Regions from separate parts of the Homo sapiens genome. Here regions 1 and 3 are each linked to region 2. The links come from fine-mapping of genetic effects on gene expression. A gene starts in region 2. Each other region holds a variant in brackets. All regions are shown on one strand. Distances are between the middles of the regions.

Region 1 (8,184 bases), 140 kb before region 2:
TGGGATTACAGGTGTGAGCCACCACACCCAGCCCTCTTTCAGTTGTTATTGTTTTTTGTTTATTTGTAAAAATGGGATCTGCCTATGTTTTGAACTCTTGGGCTCAAGTGATCCTCCCACTTCGGTCTCCCAAAGCGCTGGGTTTACAGGCACAAGCCACCATGCCTGGCCATCTCTTTCAGTTCTTTAAAGATGTTGTTCCATTGTCTTCTTGCTTGCATTGTTTCTTTTTTGGGGGTACATAGTAGGTATGTATATTTATGGTGTACACGAGCTATTTTGATACAGACATACAATATGTAATAATCACATCAGGATAAATGAGATATCCATAACCTCAAGAATTTATCGTTTGTGTTACAAACAATCTAGTTGTACTCTTTTAATTATTTAAAAGTGTACAATTAAATTATTTTTTACTATAGTCACCTCGTTGTGCTAGCAAATACTAGGTTTTTTGTTTGTTTGTTTGTTTGTTTTAGATGAGGTCTTGTTCTGTTGCCCAGGCTGGAGTGCAGTGGCACAATCTCAGCTCACTGCAAGCTGGGTTCAAGTGATTCTCCTGCCTCAGCCTCCCGGGTAGCTGGGACTATAGGCATACGCCACCACATCCAGCTCATGTTTTATATTTTTAGTAGAGACAGGGTCAGGAGTTCGAGACCAGAACTCCTGACCTCATGTGATCTGCCCGCCTTGGCCTCCCAAGGTGCTGGGATTCCAGGCGTGAACCACAGTGCCTGGCAGAAATACTAGCTCTTATTCATTCATTCTATTTTTTTGTACCCATTAACCATCCCCTCTTCCTCCCCACTCCCCCACTACCCTTCCCAGCTTCTGGTAACCATCATTGTACGCTCTATCTCCATGAGTTCAGTTGTTTTAATCTTTAGCTCCTACAAATAAGTAAGAATACGCAAAGTTTGTCTTTCAGTGCCTAGCTTATTTCCTTAACATAACTACCTCCAGTTCTGTTCATGTTGTTGCAAATGACAGAATCTCATTCTCTCTTTTTTTTTTTTTTTGAGATGGAGTCTCGCTCTGTCACCCAGGCTGGAGTGCAGTGGCGTGATCTCGGCTCACCGCAACCTACGCCTCCTGGGTTCAAGCAGTTCTCTGCTGCAGCCTCCTAAGTAGCTGGGACTACGGGTACCTGCCACCATGCCTGGCTAATTTTTTTGTATTTTTAGTAGAGACGGGCTTTCACCATCTTGGCCAGGCTGGTCTTGAACTCCTGACCTCATGATCCACCGGCCTCGGCCTCCCAAAGTGCTGGGATTACAGGTGTGAGCCACCGTGCCCGGCCTCTCATTCTTTTTTTTATAGCTGAATAGTACTCCATTGTGTATATGTACCACATTTTCTTTATCCATTCATTTGTTCATAGACACTTAGGTTGCTTCCAAATCTTGGCTATTGTCAATAGTGCTGCAGTAAACATGGAAGTGCAGATATCTCTTCGATATACTGATTTCCTTTTTTTGGGAGGGTGGGTATTTCCCTAGCAATGGGATGTCTGGATCATATGATAGCTCTATTTTTGTTTTTTTGAGGAACCTCCAAATTGTTCTTCATAGTGGTTGTACTAATTTACATTCCCACCAGCAGTGTATAAGGATTCCCTTTTCTCTACATCCTCACCAGCATTTGTTATTGCCTGTCTTTTGCATAAAAACCATTTAAAATGAAGTGATATCACATTTTCTATATGATAATAGAAGTCATTATATAAAAAAGATACTTGCACATGCATGTTTATAGCAGCACAATTCACAATTTCAAAAATATGGAACCTGCCCAAATGTCCATTAATCTATAAGTGGATAAAGAAAACATGGTATATATGTATACATCATGGAATACTACTCAGCCATAAAAAGGAGAGAAATAATGACATTCGCAGCAACCTGGATGGAATTGGAAATTATTATTCTAAGTGAAGTAACTCAGGAATGGAAAACCAAACATTATATATTCTTACTAATATGTGGGAGCTAAGCTATCAGGACGCAAAGGCATAAGAATGATACATTGGACTTTGGGGACCTGGGGAAAAGGATTGAGGATGGTGAGGGATAAAAGACTACACGCTGGGCACAGTGTACACTGCTAGGGTGATGAGTGCACCACAATCTCAGAAATCACCACTAAAGAACTTATTCATGTAACCAGACACCACCTGTTCCCCAAAAATCCTATTGAAATAAAAAAATTAAAAATCAAAAACCACAAAATTCAGAATTACAGGAGCTTTCCTCTCCCACAACCACCTAAGATTCTGGACAACTATATTTATAATGGGTATCTCAGATGATTCTCATGAATAAGTCATCCTGATAGATTTTAGGGCCAATTTTTCATAAGAATTCAAGGAAACTGTCTTTGCTGGGCTATGTGAAATTACCCAGAGCTGCTTATCTCTCATTGGCAGGAGGGTTTGGCATCAGTTGCAGGTGACTTATTTCCTTTTACTGTGGATGATAGAGATAATTGAAGAAAAAGCCTTAGTTTGTATTTAAAAAAATAAATAAAATAATGGGTTTGGAAGATATTATTTGCAAGCCTCATGGTAACCTCAAATTTAAAAACGTACAATGGATACACAAAAATTAAAAAGCAAAAAATTAAAACATACCACAAGAAAATCATCACCTTCACTAAAAGGAAGACAGGAAGGAAGGAAATAAGAGAAGACCATAAAACAACCAGGAAACAACAAAATGACAGGAATAAGTCCTTACTTATCAATAAAATAAGTAATTGGTAATCGACTACACTCAACAATCAAAAGGCATAGAGTGGCTGAATGGATTAAAAACAAAACAAAACAAAACAAGACCCAGTGATCTGATGCCTAAAAGAAATACACTTCACCACTTCTATGCAAATGGGAACCTAAAAAGAGCAAGAGTAGCTATACTTATATCACACAAAATAGGTTTCAATACAAAAACTATAAAAAGCGACAAAAAGGTCATTATATAATGATAAAGAGGTCAGTTCAGCAAGAGGATATAACAATTATCAATATATATGCATCCAACATGAGAGCACACAGGTATGTAAAGGAAATATTACTAGAGCTAAAGAGAGAGAGAGAGAGACAACAATAGCTGGAAACTTCAACACCCCACTTCCAGCATTGGGCACATCTCCTAGACAGAAAATCAACAAAGAAACATTGGATTTAATCTGCACTATAGACCAAATGGACCTAATAGATATTTACAGAACGTTTCATCCAATGGCTGCAGAACACACATTCTTTTCCTTAGCACATGGATCATTCACAAGGAAAGACCCTATGTTAGGGTACAAAACAAGTCTTAAAACATTCAAAAAATGGAAATAATATCAAATATCTTCTCTGACCACAATAAAATAAAACTAAAAACCAATAACAGGAGGAATTCTGGAAATTATACAAACACAAGGAAATTACACAGTATGTTCCTGAATGACCAGTGGGTCAATGAAGAGATAAAAAAACGAAAGTTTTGGCCAGGCACAGTGGCTCATGCCTGTAATCCCAGAACTTTGGGAGGCCAAGGTGGGCAGATCATGTGAGGTCAGGAGTTCAAGACCAGCCTGACCAACGTGGAGAAACCCCGTCTCTACTAAAAATACAAAATTAGCTGGGCATGGTGGTGCATGCCTGTAGTCCCAGCTACTTGGGAGGCTGAGGCAGAAGAATCACTTGCACCCAGGAGGCAGAGGTTGCGGTGAGCCGAGATTGTGCCATTGCATTACAGCCTGGGCAGCAAGAGCAAAACTTCGCCT[CA/C]AAAAAAAAAAAAAAAAGTTTTTCAAGAAAAAGTTTTCTTGAAACAAATGATAGTGGAAACACAACATACCAAAAACTATGACATACATCAAAAAAGGGAAGTTTATGGGTATCAGTGCCTACATCAAAAAAGAAGAAAAACTTCAAATAAACGATATAATGATGTATCTTGAAGAATTAGAAAAGCAAGAGCAAACCAAACCCAAAATAAGTAGAAGAAAAGAAATAATAAAGATCAGAGCAGAAATAAGTGAGATTGAAATGAAGAAAACAATACAAAAGATCAATGAAACAAAAAGTTGGTTTTCTGAAAAGATAAAATTGACAAACCTTTATCCAGACTAAGAAAAAAAGAAAGAAGGCCCAAATAAGGGAAATCGGAGCCCGGGCCGGTGGCTCACGCCTGTAATCCCAGCACTTTGGGAGGCCAAGGCGGGCAGATCACAAGGTCAGGAGATCGAGACCATCCTGACTAACACGGTGAAACCCCGTCTCTACTAAAAAATACAAAAAAATAAAAATAAAAAAAAGCCGGTCGTGGCAGTGGGCGGGCGCCTGTAGTCCCAGCTACTTGGGAGGCTGAGGCAGGAGAATGGCGTGAACCCGGGAGGCGGGGCTTGCAGTGAGTCGAGATCGTGCCACTGCACTCCAGCCTGAGCGACAGAAGGAGACTCCATCTCAAAAAAAAAAGAAAAAAAAAAAAGAAAATCAGAGGCTGGGCGCGGTGGCTCAGCCTGTAATCCCAGCACTTTGGAAGGTAGAGGCGGGCGGATCACGGTCAGGAGATCAACACAATCCTGGCTAACATGGTGAAACCCCGTCTTTACTAAAACTACAGAAAATTAGCTGGTCGTGGCTGCATGCGCCTGTAGTCCCAGCTACTCGGGAGGCTGAGGCAGGAGAAGGGCATGAACCCAGGAGGCGGAGCTTGCAGTGAACCGAGATTGCGCCACTGCAGTCCAGCCGGGGCGACAGAGCGAGACTCCATCTCAAAAAAAAAAAGAAAAGAAAAGAAAAGAAAATCAGAGATGACAAGGGAGACATTACAACGGATACTGCCAAATTCAAAGGATGATTAGTGGCTATGAGCAATTATATGCTAATAAATTGGAAAGTCTAGAAGAAACAGATAAATTCCTAGATACATACAACCTACCAAGACTGAACCATGAAGAAATCCAAAACCTGAACAGGCAAATAACAAGTGATGAGATTGAAGCCATAATAAAAATTTCGTCAGCAAAGAAAAGCCTGGAACCTGATGGCTTCACTGCTGAATTTTACCAAATATTTTAAAACTGATAATACCAACCCTGCTCAAATGATTCCAAAAAATAGAGGAAGAGGGAATACTTGTAAACCTAATACTTGTAAACTATGCACTATGAGGCCAGTATTACCAGTAAACTAGACAAAGCCTCACCAATAAAAGAAAACTACAGGCCAATATTCCTCATGAACATTGATGCAAAAATCCTCAACAAAATAGTAGAAAACCAAATTCAACAACACATTAAAAAAAGCATTCATCATTACCAAGTGGGGTTTATCCCAGGGATGCAAGGATGTTTCAACATATGCAAATCAGTCAGTGTGATACATCATATCAACAGAATGAAGGACAAAAACTATATGATCATTTAAGTTGATGCTGAAAAAGCATTCGAAAAAATTCAACATCCCTTCATGATAAAAATCCTCCAAAAAAGTGGGTATTAAAGGAACATACCTCAATACAATAAAAGCCATCTAGGACAGACCCACAGCTAATATCATACTTAAAGTAGAAAACTGAAAGCATTTCCTCAAATATCTGGAACAAGACAAGGATGCCCACTTTCACCACTGTTATTCAAGTCCTAACTGGAGCAAACAGACAAGAGAAAGAAATAAAGGACATCAGAATTGAAGGAGGAAGTCAAATTAGCCTTGTTTGCAGATAATACATCTAATATTCAGAAAAACCTAAAGACTCCACTAAGAAAACTATCAGAACTGGTAAACAAATTTAGTAAAGTTTCAGGATACAAAATCATCATACAAAAATCAGTAGCATTTCTATATGCCAACAGTGAACAATCTGAAAAAGAAATCAAGAAAGTAATACCATTTACAATAGCTACAAATAAATTTAACCCATTACCCATTTGCCCTGAGAAATGAGCACTGGCAGCGAGCTGCACTTTTTTTGTCTGAATAGGAAATGGGTTAAATACTTAGGATTTAACCAAATAAGTGAAAGATTTCTACAATGAAAACTATAAAACACTGATGCAAGAAACTGAAGAAGACACCAAAAACTGGTAAGATAGTCCATGTTCATGGACTGGAAGAATCAATATTATTAAAATATCCATACCACCCAAAGCAATCTACAGAGTCAATGCAATCTCTATCAAAATACCAATGATATTCTTCACAGAAATAGAAAAAAAAATCCTAAAATTTATATGAAACCACAAAAGACCTGGAATAGCCAAAGCTATCCTAAGCAAAAAGAACATTCTGTGTCTTTTAGGTGGAGTGTTTAGGACATTTACATTCAATGTTAGTTTTGAGATGCGAGGTACAGGTTGCTAGGGAACTGGGGGAAAGCCGGCAGTTACAGGCCTCACCCTGCTCCCAAGCAGCCCACAGTCCTAAAGCTGATCTTACTCCCACCATGCCCCTGCAACAGCACCAAGTTTATTTCTAAGCAGCTGGTGACCAGGGCTGAGAACTTGCCCCATTGAGAAAGCAAGCAGCCTCCCCATGAGCCTCCCCATTGAGAAAGCAAGCGGACTCACAGTTTTTTGGCATCTCAGGGAGCCTGCAGGGGTGATGAAGTTCCTTCAAAGGGTGTGTGGATTCTTTCGGCTTTCTTGGTATGTTCCTATGGTAGTTCTTGGAGCAAAAGTTCACGATGTGAGTCTCCACATGCTGTTCTGTCCATCTGAGTGGGACGCGCAAGCTAGTCTTTCCTCGTATCCACCATCTTAATCTCCTAAGTCGAATTCTGAATTTCAAACAAATTCTTTAGGAGATTCTTCTGCCTGCTTATATTGGAGAACCCCAAATCCAGTCCTATAGTTTAGATGGAGTAACTGAAATGCCCACAAACCCATTATTTTAAACTGATGACAATGCTGCCTGCATAAACAAACAAGCAAAAAACAAATGAACAAAACCCCCAAAATTAATAAAAACTCTACACTTTAACTTTGTCTTCCTGCATTTTAACTTATTGTTGTTTATATTTTATTATACTGTCTATGTCATGAAAGTTGTTTTAGTTATTTTTGTTGATCAGTTCATCTTTTCGTCTTTCTACTTAAGATATGAGTAGTTTACATACCACAATTACAGTGTTAATGACATTCTGTGTTTTTCTGTGTGCTTACTGTTACCAGAGAGTTTTGTACCTTCAGATAATTTCTTATTGCTTATTAATGTCTTTTCCTTTCAGGCTGCAGAACTCCCTTTAGCATTTCTTGTAGGAAGGGTCTGGTATTGATGAAATCCCTTAGTTTTTGTTTGTCTGGGAAAGTCTTTATTTCTCCTTTATGTTTGAAGGATTTTTTTTTCCAGATATACTATTTTAGAGTAAAAGTTTTTCCCTTTAGCACTTTAAATATGTCATACCACTCTCTCCTGGCCTGTAATGTTTCCACTGAAAAGTCTGCTGCCAGACATATTGCCATTGTATGTTATTTGTTTCTATTCTCTGGCTGCTTTTAGAATCCTTTCTTTTTCCTTGACCTTTGGGAGTTTGATTATTAAATGCCTTGATGTAGTCTTCTTTGGGTTAAATATGCTTGGTTTTCTACAACCTTTTTGTACTTGAATATTGTTATCTTTCTCTAGGTTTTGGAAGTTCTCTGTTATTATCATCTTGAATAAACTTTCTACCCCCATCTCTTTTTCTACCTTCTCTTTAAGGCCAATAACTCTTAGATTTGCCCTTTTGAGGTTATTTTCTAGATCTTGTAGGCATGCTTCATTCTTTTTTATTTTGTCTCCTCCGTGTATTTTCAAATAGCTTCTTCTCAAGCTTACGGATTCTTTTTTCTGCTTGATCAGTTCTGCTATTAAGAGATTCTGATGCATTCTTCAGTAGATCATTGCATTTTTTAACTCCATAATTTCTGCTTATTTTTAATTATTTCAATTTTTGTTAAATTTATGGGATAGGATTCTGAATACATTTTCTGTATTATCTTGAATTTCTTTGAGTTTTCTCTAAACAGATATTTTGAATTCCGTCTGAAAGGTCACATATCTCTGTCTCTCTGGGATTGGTTCCTGGTACCTTATTTAGTTCGTTTGCTGAGGTCCTGGATAGTCTTGATGTTTGTGGATGTTCATCAGTGTATTACTCTGTTTTCATGCTGCTGATAAAGACATACCTAAGACTGGGCAATTTACAA
Region 2 (8,184 bases):
CAGCTCCATGTGAGTAAGGCTGAACCAGAAATAAAGCAGCCCTCACACAGACCACAGTTATCTTGGTCATCCTGGAAAATCTCAAATGCTGAATTTGGATTAAGGTAATCCTGGAGCACTAGGTTCCCCTAGATACCTGGCAAAAGAAGTTGAAAATCCTCCCTGGAGAAAGATAACATAATTTTAGGCCTCAAATGACTGTAAGAAAACTTTTCAAAACAAGTTTGGCACAGTAAAAATCTACTAGATGGATAAGAAGCGAGGACTCCGTAAACAAGAACCAGCAGAAACAAAAGATCAGAGAGGTCCCAAAGGGACTCAGAATTTTGGTGTCACGAAATTTTATACAGTACAATTACTACAATGAAAAGAAATGATCTATATAAAATAAAAAGCAAAAAAACAGCTAGAAAGAAATACACCAGGATTGTGTTGGTGGTATCTGAGAGCAGCAAACTGTGGTGTTTATCTTTTTCATTTTTATATTTTCCAAATTATTTTATATTTTTGAGACAGGCTCTCGCTTTGTCACCCGAGGTGGGGTGCAGTGGCATGATCACAGCTCACTGTGCCTTGACCTCTTGGGCTCAAGCAATCCTCTGGCCTCAGCCTCCTGAGTAGCTGAGACTACAGGTGTGCACCACCATGCCTGGCTAATTTTATTTTCATTTTTGTAGAGACCGGGTCTTAATTATGTTGCCCAAGATGATCGCGAACTCCTGACCTCAAGTGATCCACCCGCCTCAGCCTCCCAAAGTGCTGAGATTACAGGCATGAGCCACAGTGCCTGACCTCCAAATTTTCTTTAATGACAATTTATACTGGAAGAAATACTTCTGTAAAAGAGAAAGCAACATAGGGTATAACCCAGAGCAGGGCTAGATTTGTAGGCATTCAACTTCTACAGCTGTCCAGGGTCTTGTGCTCAGAAGGGCCTCATGCTTGGCTTAATGTTCTGCTGTTGCTGTCTTGAAATTATTAATTTTTAATCAAGAAGCTTGATATAGTTTGGGTTATTTGTCCCTGCCCAAATCTCATGTTGAAATGTCATCCCCAGTGTTGGAGGTGGGGCCTGGTGGGAGGTGTCTGGGTCATGGGGGTGGATCCCTCATGGCTTGGTGCTGTCCTCGCAATAAAGAGAGTGTTCTCACAAGATCTGGTTATTTACACGTGTGTGGCACTTCTCCACAACACTCTCTTGCTCTTGCTTTTGCCATGTGACATGCCTGCTCCTGCTTCACCTTCTACCATGAATAAAAGCAACCCTGAGGCCTCCCCCGAAGCCGAGCAAATGCTGGTGCCGTGCTTGTACAGCCTGCAGAACGGTGAGCCAATTGAACCTGTTTTCTTTATAAAGTACCCAGCCTCAGGTTTTTGTTTTTTTTTTTTGAGACAGGGTCTGGCTCTATTGCCTAGGCTGGAGTGCAGTGGTATGAACACAGCTCACTGCACCCTTGACCTCCTGGGCTCAAGCAACACTCTCACCTTAGCCCTGCAAGAAGCTGGGACTACAGGTGCATGCCACCACACCCGGCTAATTTTTGTATTTTTTGTAGAGATGGGGTTTCTGCCATGTTGTCCAGGCTGGTCTCAAATACCTAAGCTCAGGTGATCTGCCCACCTCGACCTCCCCAAGTACTGGGATTACAGGCATAAACCACCATGCCTGGCCAGGTATTTCTTTATAGCAATGCAAGAACGGCCTAATACAAAGTCCCACATTTTCATTTTGCACTTGGCCCTCCAAAGTATGTAGCCGGTCCTGACCCAGAGGCAATAAAATGTAGATCGGTTCATTGCTCTGGTCATCAGCCTCTGGATTTGCTCTAATTTCTCCACTTCTCACTGAAAGGCATCTAGTTTCTAAACTGGAGGGAGATATGAGGCCAGGCACTGTGGTGCACACCTATAATCCCAGCGCTTTGGGAGGCCAAGGCTGGAAGACTGCTTGAGGCCAGGAGTTTGGGACCAGCCTGGCCATATATTGAGACCTATGTCTGCAAACAAAACAAAACAAAAATTATCTGGGTGTGGTGGTGCATGCCTGTAGTCCTAGCAAGGAGTTTGAGGCTACAGTGAGCTATGATAGCACCACTGCACTCCAGCCTGGGCAACACAGCAAGACTGTCTTCAAAAAAATAAAATAAAATAAATTGAAGGGCCTGGAGCGGTGGCTCACGCCTGTAATCCCAGCACTTTGGGAGGCCGAGGTGGGTAGATCACGAGGTCAAGAGATCGAGACCATCTTGGCCAACATGGTGAAACCCCGTCTTTACTAAAAATACAAAGATTAGCTGGGCGTGGTGGTGCGTGCCTGTAGTCCCAGCTACTCGGGAGGCTAAGGCAGGAGAATCGCTTGAACCAGGGAGGTGGAGGTTGCAGAGATCACGCCACTGCACTCCAGCCTGGCGACAAAGTGAGACTCCGTCAAATAAATAAATAAATAAATAAATAAATAAATAAATAAATAAGTAAAAGATGTGGCCAAATAGCTGCAGGAATGTTGGGGCATAGTAGAAAGAGCCCAGGATTAGGAGTCCGCAGACAGGATTCCAGTTCTGTCACTAGAAAGCTGTATCTCTATCTTGCTGGAATTCATCCCTTCCAGCTCTCAAGGCATTGGAATCACATCTGTGAACAGGAAAACTAGCACACCAGAGTCAGAATCAAGCAATAGTTATTTATCTAGTTCCCACCCTGTGCAAGGTACCAGGTGCTCTAAGATTCACTCCAATCCATGAAGTGCGTCTACTCTTTCACCGAGATTTGCCAGTCGTCTTTCAGGGTATTTTTCCTTGCTTTCTGGATTTGATGACTTGTCTGAAACTGAAGTTCTCTCTGGAATGACTGGACCTCTTTCACTGCAGCGTCAGGAATCTCTTGCAAAGCAAGCATGGTGAACTTCCAAGATGCTGGGCCACTGGGGGAAAGGGTGCAATTAATAATCCCTACCACTTATTGAACGTATACCAAGTGCTAGGTTTTTTACTTATGTTCCCTTTTAATCCTTTGAAATGGCTTGACTCTACTCTTATTTATGTTTTTCTGATAAGGAAACTAAGGATTAAAGAGGTTAGGTAACTTGCAGCTAGAAAACGGTCTACCTTCAAAAGCATCCTCTTGACAATTCCACTAGGACCAACACCAATACCACCGAGCCCTCGTTGCTGCCTCTTCAGCGCAGAATAGCCCACCAAGTCCACGTTTCCCTAGTCCCAAGGTCGGATGGCTGGGGAGGGTAGAGGATGCAACGGAAGGACGTTAATGGAGAATTTTGCAGGGTCTGGGAGCAGAGCAGTAAACGCAGCCCTAAGCACTGAGTATGCTACAGTTTGGTAAAATCCATCCAAGCAGCTTTGGGATCCAAGGCTTGCACTGTATCCCCAACCAACACTAGGCAACGCCCCAAGTCCCCACACTTCCCACTCCGATAGGCGAAACTGCAAGAACCGGGAGGGGCGGCTGCGGCGTTTAGGCGCGAGGCACACACCATACCCTTCCGCAGCTTCCCACCTCCTCCAGACGCACGTGTTTAAAGAGTCCCTGCTCCAACCGGTCCCGCCCCACCTCCGCTCGGCCTCCAGCCCTGCTTGTACTGCTGGCTTCAAGTTTCCTCCGAGAGGCGGGCGTGCACAGCTGCAGTGGCGGCGGCAGCGGCCACCAAGCGCCCGGCGGCGCTTCGCCACCCACCTTTCCTCAGCCCCCGGCGCTGCAGTCTCCGCCCGCCGGGGAGGGCGCGCTCAGCGGAACAGGAGTCGAGGGTGGGGCGCCGAGAGGAGGGAATCCCGGGTCGCACCGCTACAGTTCTCGCAGTGGCAAAGGCGGCGGCGGCGGCGGCGGCAGCGGCAGCAGCAGGTGGAGCGAGCTACAGCGTTTGGCCTGAAACCCACTGCTGCAGCCACCCGGGCTGGAGTTGGCCCGTTGGGTGGAGCCAGTGCTCGCCCCGGTCCGACCCCCGGTTTCCGGGACACTTGGGTTGCGGAGGCCGGCTGGCCGGAGTCACGGTTGGGGACGGGCGCGCCTCGGAGCGCACGGCTGCGCTGGAAGCCGCGTCTGGGGCGCAGGACCAACGGGACCTACCTCCTCCCGGCTACCTAAAGACTCCTTCTCTCGGGAAAGAGCGCTGCCCGGCTCTGGGATTTGGGAGGAGCTCGGAGGCCGCTCGGGCACCTCGCTGGACACTATCCGTTTGCGCCCCGGTGGCGCGGGAGGGTCCGGAGCGGAGCGCTCGTCTCTCCTCAGCGGTTTAGTGGAGAAAAGCAGAGAGCTCTTCCTGGGGCGAATGGGACCTCCTCCCTCGGTCCTCCGTGGAGTCGTCGCATCGCTTGTCGTGTTGGTCTCGAGGGGCTCACAGCTTGGCACTAATTTGCAGGTGTTCGCTGCTGATTTGGTTTCTTCTTCGATTTGCGGACGGTTCCCTCCAGCGACTCTCGACACACGTTTTCCTGTCTTCGCCGGAGGGCCGGGTCTGGGGTCGCCGGAGCCTGCGGGAATCCAGCGCTTATTCGCTGACCCTCGAGTCGCTTCGCTAGCTGTGCGCCCTCCTGGGCACTAGCCTGGAGAGGAGCGTGCAGACGCGGCTCCTTGGAGGGAGTGCGGTCCTCTAGGGAGGCATCGGGCTCCTAGGGGCTTCTTGGCGTGTGTGGTGGGATTGGGGTCCGCCGGCCATGGCCTTCACTTTCGCTGCGTTCTGCTACATGCTGTCTCTGGTGCTGTGCGCTGCGCTCATCTTCTTCGCCATCTGGCACGTGAGTAACACGCTTTGGTCTCTCTTCTTTCGCCCCAATTTCGCTAAATTTCCCCGATTTCACCCCACTTTTTCCACCTTGCGGGCGTGGGCGAACCGGAAGGTTGGACCTTCTGCCGCTCCACTGTCCCGGGGCAGGAGGCAGTTCGCTGCATCCCGCCGGGCGCGCCTTCGGTGCCCTGGCTGGAGGCGAGGGGCCGCTGGTGCCCAGGTAGGACACCCTCTGCAGGGCCCGACTGGGCGTCCCGGGTCCCGGGCGCCGGGGAGTGGCGGCTACAACCACAACTAACCCCTTCCTCTCCCGCCCCGTCCTCTCCTGCCGGCGGGAGGCGAAGGAGAAGCGCCGCCGTCGGTCCCGGCAATTAGTCAAGTAGCTATAATAACTAAACATTTAAAATGTCAGCATCTGTGGTGGGTTGCATTTAGATATAATTGGAGACAAAGTGGAAACACGACGGGAGCGCCTTGTAAGAGGTAGGGAGAAGCCGAGCCCACGGAGAGGAAGGAGACCAGGCGATGGGGGTCGAAGTGGAAGGCGGTGGGGGAAAGGCGAGAAGGAGAAGAGCAAGGAGGCGAGGGAGACTGGGAAGGGCAGGCATCATTAAGGCCATGGAGGAAAGTCACGAAGAGAGACCGTGGAGAGCGACGACGGTGTCCTCCATCTGCCCTCTTGGCGTCTGAAGTCCGACTCCTGAAGACCCCCTGCAGGTGGCGAACCTCCGCTAGGCCCCCAGCGTCCCCAGCCCACACAAGCTTCCTGTCACCCTTCCCGGGGCTACGCCAGGTGGAGGGCAGCCGTGGATCCCAGTTCTTTAGGTGTGGGTGGGAATAGAGGAGCGCAAGCTTCTGAATAGGGGAAGAGAAGTACTGAGAGAGCGCGCAGGAGTGCGTACGCCGGTCCTCTCAAAGACTGTGCAACATTTAGCGAGTGCATGCAACTCTCAAGGCTTCCTTCTCTGAGGTTGTTTAAGCCCCCTATCCTCACCCTCAGAGGGCTGGTGGGAAGAATGGCCAAGGCCAAATGTTTAGAAGGAGCACCCCAGTGCATAATTTCCCACCTTTAACAGCCTTGCCCTGCCCAGCGTCTAGGTGACAGAGAAGGACCCTGAGACGAATTCTTGGAGGCATGGTTCTGGTGAGCATCACAGACTCTCATACAGTGGGGATGACCCAAAATGAAGACGTGGAGAAAATTGCAGGGTGGGTGAGATGCCCTTGTTTTCTATAAGTGGTTTGCAGAGTGAGAGTTTGTCTTAAAATAGAACTAAGCAGCTAGAGCAGCTCCTGCTACAGGGCTCTGACAGAGAGGAGAGGGGAAACTCGGGGAGGAAGGTGGCTTCCGATCATGTAACCTTAGGAAAGACCCTTGCTGGCTTCCTTCCACATCTCTAAAGTGAGAAAATTGACCTGGATAGTCGCTAAGCTTTCCCCCATTTCTCAGATTGTGTAAATCCGTGCATCAGTAGACTTAGGAATCTGGGGGTGACAGGGAATCCAAACATAGATATTTGGGGGATGATTAAAACAATTCCGCTATTTAGAAGTAATGGGATTTTAAACCCTCCCTTCTCTGCTCTGCAAGGCTGGGTCTAATCTATAGTAGAAAATTGAGGCTTGAAGTTGTTGACAGTTCTTAAGGGAAAAGGAAACTTACCTGATTTAGAATAGAAAGGAATACAGATTAGATCATGCCCAAGCAGTGCAGCAAACCTCTGCTAATGTGCTTTAAAGGAACTTTCTCAGCTTCTTTGGATATGGGGAGTTACTTGGATTCTAGAAGGCCAACTACTCCCTTTTCTTCTGCAATACTTCATTTGCTGTTTTCTGTTTTTGCCTTGGCCAGAGGGTGTCAGGTACCAGAGAGCTCCCTCAAACTCGAGTCTGGCTTGGAGTTCTCTGAATTGGTCCCTGAAGCAGAGCAAGTAACCAGAAAGAATCATTTTCTCTCATTCAGGGAAAGATGATTAATAATTCAAGAACAGCTTCATTGAGTGGTTTGTGCAGCTGGTTGACATTTGAATGAAAATCAGGTGTTCCCTCATCCAGCACTGGCTCTATCCTCCAGCTTCTCAATGCTCACCCCCTTATCGAGGGGTGGCTGAAATGCAGTCAAATTCCAACTCAGGTTTTATCCAGATTCCTCGTGGAAGTGGCAAGATTCTTGTTTCTAATAATGAAAAGAATTTGTGCGTTTTGATTTCAAATTACGGTAATAATTTCATAGTCTCAGTCCCTCCTTTCCTAGTCTTTTCCTTCTCTATCCCTTTCCCTCTCTCCAAATCAAACAACCCAAACCCCATCACACTGATTTGGTTCCTGAACATTGAACTGGGAAACCAGAGACACCCTGATTTCAGGGCACGGTTTGTATGTCTGGGTGTTAGTTACATGGTAGTAATTATTTCAACCAAAATTGAGGAGACTTGGTTTTATGTTAGACTGTTTGCCTTCTTTCCAGCTTCTTATATTACTTATGTACTTCTTGATCGGACAAGGCATATTGATTGTGTGATATATATCAGTACCCCAAAAAATGAATTGGGCGCTTAACAACATATAGCGGTTAAAATGCCTGCCATGCTGCCATGCCTAGGCTGTAAGATATGAAGATGGCGTGCTTTTCTTATTGAATTGTACGTACCTACTTAGGGGTAATGATGGTAGCTACTATGTATTGGGTGTCTGCTGTAGGACAAGTTTTAAGTACTTTACAGAGGATCTCTCAGTCCAATCGTTTTCCTCCCCTTTTTTCCCACTGGATGTCTGGGAGCAAGGATGGATGTGGCCAGCCTTTCTTTCAAGTCTTGTTTTTTACTTTGAAAATTTATCTGCATTTGTTTTCAGTTGAAAATATTTCAAGTTACCCATTTATTTTATATCAGCTACTATCTCTGAGTACATTTATCACATTTGGAAGAAGCAGAAGAAAACTAGGTTTTTTCTGTGGCTTTGCATACCCTCAGGCACCTGGCCTCTTACTGCCCAGGCAGCCCTTTAGTCCTCATAACGGACATTTCGCAGATGAGGAAACTGGATCAGAGAGATTACAAGGTTGCCTAAGGTTGCACAGCTGATATGTATTGGAGCTGGTATGCATGGACTTGAGCTAGGTCTGTGAGACTCTTAAGCCTAAGCCCTTTCTCTAACTGTAGTCACTATTTTTGGATTCATAACTTAGATAATAATTTATATCCAAAGGATTACCTTTCTCTGTATAAATGAAATTTTAGAGTTGGAATTTCTGATTGGGGTTACAATAGCAACAGCAACCAGACTCAAGACATGCTATATATCCTTTTTTAAAAGAGGAAAATTCTATTTATTTAAATTAGACTTCTGCTTATAAAATGATACAGGTTCCTTGTCCAAAATTTTGAAAATACAATGATTTGTAATTAAATAAAATCATCAGTAATCTTATCCAGAAAAGATTATCT
Region 3 (8,184 bases), 150 kb before region 2:
ATAGGCGAGAGCCACTGCATCCAGCCAGTTGTTTTTATTATGACTTTACCCTTAATTCATTGTATATTTTATTTAAATTTAATTTTTTCTTTTTTTTTTTTTGAGATGGAGTCTCACTCTGTCACCCAGCCTGGAGTGCAGTGGGGCGAGCTCAGCTCACTGCAACCTCCACCTCCTGGGTTCAAGAAATTCTTGTGCGTTGGCTTCCCGAGTAGCTGGGACTACAGGCGCCCACCACCACACCCAGCTAATTTTTATATTTTTAGTAGAGACGGGGTTTTTCCATGTTGGCCAAGCTGGTTTCGAACACGTGACCTCAAGTGACCCACCCACCTTTGCCTCCCAAAGTGCTTGGATTACAGGCATGAGCCACTGTGCCTGGCCTCCATTGTATATTTTAAACAAAGGATGTTTAATACAGACTTATTTTTGATGCATTATACATTTTAAACAACATGAGTTTATAGCCAGTATGGCTTTTACTCCCCTTTCTTTAAGGGGAGATAAGCATACCAGTATTCTATAGAATAGTATCAGCACACAAGGCACACTTGCTTCCCTTTGCTTACCTCTGATTTAAGATCATAACTAAAAGGAATTTATTGAACCTATGGACGTATGTATTTACTTCTGAGTATATATCTCTTCCTCACATGCATATACCTTACATAAATGATTTCTTCAGTTACCATAGTGATTTAAACAGTTTTAAAACATCTTTATTAAGATTTTAACATACTACAAAATTCACCCATTTAAAATGGACACAATTCATTGGTTTTTAGTAGATTAACAAAGTTGTGCAACAACCAGCACCACAATCTAAGTTTAGAATATTTCACCCCAAAAGAAAACCCATATCAATTAGCAGTCATTTCCCATTCTCTCCTCCATATGCCTCAGTTGTAGGCCACTAATCATGTACTTTCTTTTTCTATATATTTACTTATTCTGGACATATATAAATGGAGTCATACAGTATATAGTTTTTTGTGACTGGCTTCTTTCACTTAGCACAGTGTTTTCAATGTTCATCCACGTTGTAGCATTTATCAGTACTTCTTTCCTTTTTTTTAAAAAAAAGACTTTTACTTTTTAGAGCTGTTGTAGGTTCACAGCAAAATTGAGCTGAAAGTACAGGGTGTTCTCATATACACCCTGCCCTGCTCCATGTAAACCCTCCCCCATTATCACCATCCGCACCGTTGGTGTATTTGTTACCATCAATGAACCTACATTGACATCACTATCACTCAGTCCATAGTTTACAGTAGGGTTGGTTCACTCTTACCCTAATGTAGGGTTCATGTGGTGTCGTACATTCTATGGGTTTGGACAAACCTTTAATGATGACATGTATCCACCATCGTAGTGTTGTACAGAGTAGTTTCACTGCCCTAAAAATCCTGTTATGTTTAAATTTTTTTTGTTTTTTGAAACAGTCTTGCCCTGTCACCCAGGTTGGAGTGCAGTGGCCCCATCTTGGGTCACCGCAACTTCTGCCTCCCATGCTCAAGCGACTCTCCTGTCTCAGCCTCCTGAGTAGCTGGGATTACAGGCACCCACCACCACGCCTGGCTAATTTTTGTATTTTTAGTAGAGATGGGGTTTTGCCATGTTGGCCAGGCTGGTCTCGAAATCCTGGCCTCAAGCAATCCGCCCGCCTTGGCCTCCCAAAATGCTGGGATTACAGGTGTGAACCACTAGGTCTGGACCCAATTTTTTTTTTTTTTTTTTTTTGAGATAGGGTCTCATTCTGTCACCTGGCTGAAGGGTGGTGGTGTGATCACGGCTCACCAGAGCCTCGACCTCCCAGGCTCAGGTGATCCTCCCACCTCAGCCTCCTGAGTAGCTGGGTCTGCAGGCACGCACCACCACACCTGGCTAATTTTTTGTATTTTTATTGTAGACATGGGCTGGTCTCAAAACACCTAGGCTCAAGTGATATTCCTGCCTTGGTTTCCCAAAATATGTTTAACTTTTTTTTTTTTTTTTTTTTTTTTGAGACAGTCTTGCTCTGTCACCAGGCTGGAGTGCAGTGGCACAATCTTGGCTCACTGCAACCTGCACCTCCTGGGTTCAAGCAATTCTGCCTCAGCCTCCCGAGTAGCTGGGACTACAGGCGTGTGCCACCACACCCAGCTAATTTTTGTATTTTTAGTAGAGATGGGGTTTCATCATGTTGGCCAGGATGGTCTCGATCTCTTGACCTCGTGATCCACCCGCCTCGGCCTCCCAAAGTGTTGGGATTACAGGCGTGAGGCACTGTGCCTGGCCTGTTTAACTTTTTAAGAAGCTACCAAAATGTTTTACAAAGTGCTTGTACTGTTTTCCATTCCCAATGATGTGTGAGAGTCCGGTTTCTTCATATCCTTGCTGACTCTTGGGATGGTCAGTCTTTTGTTAAAATGTTTTGTTAAAAATCCTTTGGCCATTTAAAAAATTGTGTTGTTTTCTCGTTATTAATTTTTGGAGTTATTAGCATGAATACAAGTCTTTTTTTTTTTGAGGCGGAGCTTCACTCTTGTTGCCTAGGCTGGAGTGCAATCGCACGGTCTCTGCTCACAGCAACCTCTGCCTCCCAGGTTCAAGCGATGCTTTTGCCTCAGCCTCCCGAGTAGCTGGGGTTAGGCATGTGCCACCATGCCCGGCTAATTTTGTATTTTTTAATAGAAACGAGGTTTCTCCATGTTGGTTAGGCTGGTCTCGAACTCCCAACCTCAGATGATCCGCCTGCCTCAGCCTCCCAAAGTGCTGGGATTATTGGTGTGAGCCACCGTGCCCGGCCTGATACAAGTCTTTTATCAGATATGTGCTTTGTGATGATTTTTCTCCCAGCTTATGAATTGTCCTCATTTTTTTTTTTTTTTTTTTTTTTTTTTTTTTTTTTTAGAGGGAGTCTCGCTCTGTCGCCCAGGCTGGAGTGCAGTGGCATGATCTCAGTTTACTGCAACCTCTGCCTCCTGGGTTCAAGCCATTCTCCTGCCTCAGCCTCCCGAGTAGCTGGGACTACAGGCACATGCCACCACACCTGGCTAATTTTTGTGTTTTTAGTAGAGACGGGGTTTCACCATATTGGCCAGGCTTGTCTCGAACTCCCGATCTTGTGATCCGCCCACCTCAGCCTCCCAAAGTGCTGGGATTACAGGTGTGAGCCACCG[C/T]GCTCGACCTGGATTGTCTTCATTCTTTTCGGAGTATCTTTTGAAGAGCTTAACCTTTAAATTTTGATGGAGTTCACTTTATATTTATTTTTTATGGGTTATGCTCTTGGTGTCATGTCTAAGCAATCTTTGCCCCAAGGCCACAAAATTTTTCTCCAGTGTTTTCTTCTAGAAGTTTTATAGTTTTAGGTTATTCATTTAGGTCAATGCTCTATTTTGAATTGATTTTTTTTTTGAGATGGGGTCTCTATATGTTGCCCAGGCTGTTCTTAAATTCCTAGGCTCAAGGGATCCTCCTGCCTCAGCCTCCCAGGTAGCTGGGACTACAGGCATGTGCTACTGCACCCAGCTAGTTAGTTTAATTTTTGAATAGGTAATACTTTTCCGTGCCTGGCTTTAAGCTAATTTTTATGTATGGTGTGAGTTATGGATCAAAGTTCATTTCTTTCTTTTTTGCATGTGGATATCCAATTGTTCCAGAACTATTTCTTGAAAAAACTATCCTTTCTCCATTGGATTGCCTTGGCACCTTTGTAAAAAATTAGTTCTCCATTTATGTATGGATCTATTTCTGATTTCCATATTCTGTTCCATTTATCTATTTTCCTTATTTATACCAAACCACACTGTTTTGATTCCTGTAGCTTTTAAATAAATCTTGAAGTCAGGTAGCATAAGTCTTCCAGCTGTATTCTTCTTTTTTTTAAAGATTTTATTTCATTTTATTTTATTTAAAGACAGGGTCTTGCTCTATTGCCCAGGCTGAAGTGCAGTGGTGTGATCACAGCTCACTGCAGTCATTAATTCTTGGGCTCAAGTGATATTCTCACCTCAGCCTCCCGTGTAGCTGGGCCCACAGGTGTGTACCACTAGGCCCAGTTAATTTTTTGATTTTTTGTAGAAACAGTCTCACCATGTTGCCCAGGCTGGTCTGAAACTTCTGGACTTGAGCGACCCTCCCACTTTAGCCACCTAAAGTGCTGAGATTAGAGATGTAAGCTGAGGCACCCAGCCAAGATAGTTAGAATTATCTTTTTTTTTTTTTTTGAGACGGAGTTTCGCTCTTGTTGCCCAGGCTGGAGTGCAATGGCACAATCTTGGCTCACCGCAACCTCCACCTCCTGGATTCAAGCGATTCTCCTGCCTCAGCCTCCCAGGTAGCTGGGATTACAGGCATGCACCACCACACCTGACTGATTTTGTATTTTTAGTAGAGACGGGGTTTCTCCGTGTTGGTCAGGCTGGTCTCGAACTCCCGACCTCAGGTCATCTGCCCACCTTGGCCTCCCAAAGTGCTAGGATTACCGGTGTGACCCACCATGCCTGGCTGGTTAGAATTATCTTTAACTCATCACAGTCTACCTTCAAGTTATATTGTATCACTTCACACATAACATAAGTTTACAGGAGTCTACCTTTGTTTCCCTCCTCATAGCTTTTATGCTGTTGTTGTCATACGTTTTACTTACACATTTGTTATAAACCACAGTCTATACTATTATTTTTGCTTGAACAGCCAGTTTTCTTTTTTAGATGTTTTATTTTGAAATAATTATAAACGGGATATTGCAAATAAATGTATAGAAAGGTCCTGTGCATCCTTCACCCCTCCTCCCTCAATGTTGACATTTTGCATAACTACATACCGTATCAAAACCAGGAAATTGGGCGGGTGCTGTGGCTCACGCCTGTAACCACAGCACTTTGGGAGGCTGAGGCAGGCAGATCACCTGATGTCAGGAGTTTGAGACCAGCCTGGCCAACATAGTGAAACCCCATCTCCACTAAAAATACAAAAATGAGCCGGGCATGGTGTCGGGCACCTGTAATCTCAGCTACTCGGGAGGCTGAGGCAGGAGAATCGCTTGAGCCTGGGAGGCGGAGGTTGCAGTGAGCTGAGATCTCGCCATTGCACTCCAGCCTGGGTGATGAGAATGAAACTCCTTCTCAAAAAAACACAAAAAACGAAAAACAAAAACCCAGAAATTGGCATTAGTACAATCCACAGGGTTTAGTCAGATTTTACCAGTTACACATGCACTCATTTGTGTGTGTATGTAGTTCTATGCAGTTTTATCATACATGTAGCTTTGTGTAATTGCCACCACAATCAAGATACAGACCCATTTCATCACCATAAGCCTCCCTGATGCTTTTATAGTCACATCTACCTTCTTTCTCCCCAGTCCATAACCCCAGCAGCCATTCTTCTGTTCTCCATCTTTTAATATTGTTATTCAAATACATTACGTAAATGGAATCACTTATGTAGTGTCATACAGTCTGTAGCTTTTTAAAAAAATCAATCAGCATAATTCCCTTGAGAACCAGCCAAGGCCTAATTCTATCGTAGTTTTTTCCTTTATGTTGCAGAGTAGTATCTGTGGTATGGATGTACTACAGTTTCTTCAACCATTTATACATTGAAGGACATTTGGGTGGTATCTAGTTCTTGGCTATTATAAATAGAGTTGTTATCAACATTCATGTATAGATTGCAGAGCGCATATAGGTTTTCATTTGCCTGGGATAAATGCCCAAGGGTGCAATTGCTGGGTTGTATGGTAAGTGCACTTTTAGTTTTAAAAGAAAATGCCAAAATATTTTCCAGAGTAGCTATCCCATTCTACATTCCTGCCAGCCATGTAAGAGTGATCCAGTTTTTCCCATATCCTTGCCAGAATTTGACATTTTTTATTTTATCACTCTGTTAGGCATGTAGTGATAATGCATTGTGGTTTTAATTTAGATTGCCCTAATCACTGAGGTTGAACATCTTTTTATTAGCTTGTTACCTGTATCTACTCCTCAGTGAAATGTTTTTAGTACACTTGCTAATTATATTGTTTGCTTTTCTACTGTTGAGTTTTGGAAATTCTTTATATTCTAGATACTAAATCCTTTGTTGGATATTTGGCTTGCAAATATTTTCTCCCAGTCTGTAATTTATCTTTTCATTCTCTTGAGACAGGGTTTCACTCTGTTACCCATGCTGGAGTGCAGTGGTGTGATCATGGCTCATTGCAGCCTTGACCTCCTGGGCTCAAGTGATCATCCCACCCCAGCCTCTCACGTGGCTGGGACTACAGGTGTGTGCCACCATACCCAGCTAATTTTTTCTGTTTTTTGTAGAGACATTTCTTGAACTGCTGGAAATGTTGCTGAGGCTGATCTTGAACTGCTAGACTCAAGCCATCTGCCCACCTCTGCCTCCCAAAGTGCTGTGAATACAGGCGTGAGCCACTATGCCTGGCTCTTTTCATTCTCTTAACAGGAGCTTTCACAGAGCAAAATTTTCTAATTCTTAAGAGGTCCAATTTATCAAGTTTTCCTGGATCATAGTTTTTGTTTGTTTGTTTGTTTGTTTTTGTTTTGCTCTCATTGCCTAGGCTGGAGTGCAATAGTGCGATCTCAGCTCACTGCAACCTCTGCCTCCTGGGTTCAAGCAATTCTCCTGCCTCAGCCTCCTGAGTTGCTGGGATTACAGGCAGGTGCCACCAAGCCCGGCTAATTTTTGTATTTTTAGTAGAGACGGGGTTTCACCATATTGGCCAGGCTGGTCTCGAACTCCTGACCTCAGGTGATCCACTCACTTCGACCTCCCATATTGCTGGGATTACAGGCATGAGCCACTGCGCCTGGCTGGGATCATAGTTTTGATATCAAGTTGAAGTACTGTTCTCCCAGCCGTAGGTTTTGAAGATTTCCTCCTGTTTTTTTTTTTTCCAAAAGTTTCATAGTTTTACATGGTATGTTTAAATCAATGATTCATTTTAAGTTAATTTTTGTAAAAGGTATGAGGCTCTTCTTTTTTTTTCTTGGCCTACAGACTTTTTTTTTTTCTTCACCAATTGTTGAAAGGGCCGTCCTTCCTCTATTAAATCATGTTTGTACCTTTTTTCTTTAAAAAAATCAGTTGTACATTCTTTTGTGATTCTATTGTTTCCTCTATTATATTTCATTGATCTACATATTTATTCTTCCACCAGTACTCTACTGTCTTGATTACTGAAGTTATTTAGTAAGCCTTAACATTGGGTAGAATGATTCTTCTTACAACATTCTTCTTTTTCAAAATTGTCGTAACTATTTTAGGTCCTTTACCTTTCCATATAAATTTTAGAATAAGTTATTTATATCTATAAGAAGCCTTGCTGGAATTTGGATAGGAATTATGTAAATCAATTTGGGAAAAATTGATGTTTTTAGTGTTGAGTTTTCTAAGTCATAAACACAGTATTTCTATTTATTTAGGTCTTCTGTGATTTCTTTCATCAACATTTTGTAATTTTCAGCATACAGCTCTTATACATGTTTTGTTAGATTTATAACTAAGTATTTCATTTGCTTTGTAGCAATTGTAAATGGTATTGTGTTTTCAGCTTTGGTTTCTACATGTTTGTTGATTTTTGTGTGTTGATTCTGTGTCCAGTGACCTTCCTTATTAATTTTTAAAATTGCAGTTAAAAATAGATTTATTAGGATTTTCTGTGTAGATAATTGTCATCTACAAATAGGGACAATTTTATTTCTTTCTTTCCAATCTGTCTGCATTTATTGTTTTTCTTTCTTTATTGCATAGGCTAGAACTTTCAGTACTGTGTTGAATAAGAATGATGAGAGTACGTCTGTGGTAGGAGAAGGTGGGAGCATCACTTGAGGCCAGGAGTTAAAGGCTGCAGTGAACTATGATCATGCCACTGCCACTGCACTCCAGCCTGCGTGACAGAGTGAGACCCTGTCTCAAAAAAAAAAAAAAAAAAAGAAAGAATGGTGATGCCATGTTCCTGATATTAGGGGGAAAGCATTCAGTCTTTCAGTCTTTCACCACTAATTATGCTGTTACCTGTAGTTTTTTGGTAGATGCTCTCTATCAAGTTGAGTCAGTTCCTCTCTAATCCTAGTTTGTGAAACTTTTTTTTTTTTGTGCACGTGAATGGGAACTGGATTTTGTAAAATGCTTTTTCTATATCAATATGGTCATATGACTTTTCTTCTTTTTTATTTTATTTTATTTTTTAGA

Alleles and levels. Alleles are on the strand shown, and positions count from the first base shown. SD is a standard deviation of normalised expression in the study named. Not every link is listed here.
For the expression in skeletal muscle of the gene that starts at base 3,810 in region 2, allele C in region 3 goes with a higher level than allele T (small effect, 0.30 SD a copy in GTEx).

What was found. PIP is the estimated chance that this variant, and not a neighbour inherited with it, causes the effect. A credible set is the group of variants that fine-mapping cannot tell apart.
Region 1: its variant is the best candidate, but not a certain one, in a credible set for the expression of CNIH3 in whole blood (INTERVAL, PIP 0.67).
Region 3: its variant is the best candidate, but not a certain one, in a credible set for the expression of CNIH3 in skeletal muscle (GTEx, PIP 0.55).

The regions. Positions count from the first base shown.
Region 1 is chr1:224,470,587-224,478,770 of GRCh38, forward strand. It overlaps a transcript of CNIH3 not described here. Among named protein-coding and RNA genes, the nearest start is that of WDR26, 40 kb to the left of the region's middle. RefSeq lists a silencer at 3,404-3,573. The variant CA/C (reference allele first, on the strand shown) is at 3,778.
Region 2 is chr1:224,612,508-224,620,691 of GRCh38, forward strand. It overlaps CNIH3 (cornichon family AMPA receptor auxiliary protein 3), which reads left to right and starts at 3,810. Exons shown (of 6, transcript NM_152495.2): 1 at 3,810-4,748. The coding sequence starts at 4,668. It overlaps CNIH3-AS2 (CNIH3 antisense RNA 2), which reads right to left and starts at 3,720. Exons shown (of 4, transcript NR_183287.1): 1 at 3,691-3,720; 2 at 3,105-3,229; 3 at 2,697-2,920.
Region 3 is chr1:224,460,919-224,469,102 of GRCh38, forward strand. It overlaps a transcript of CNIH3 not described here. Among named protein-coding and RNA genes, the nearest start is that of WDR26, 30 kb to the left of the region's middle. The variant C/T (reference allele first, on the strand shown) is at 3,162.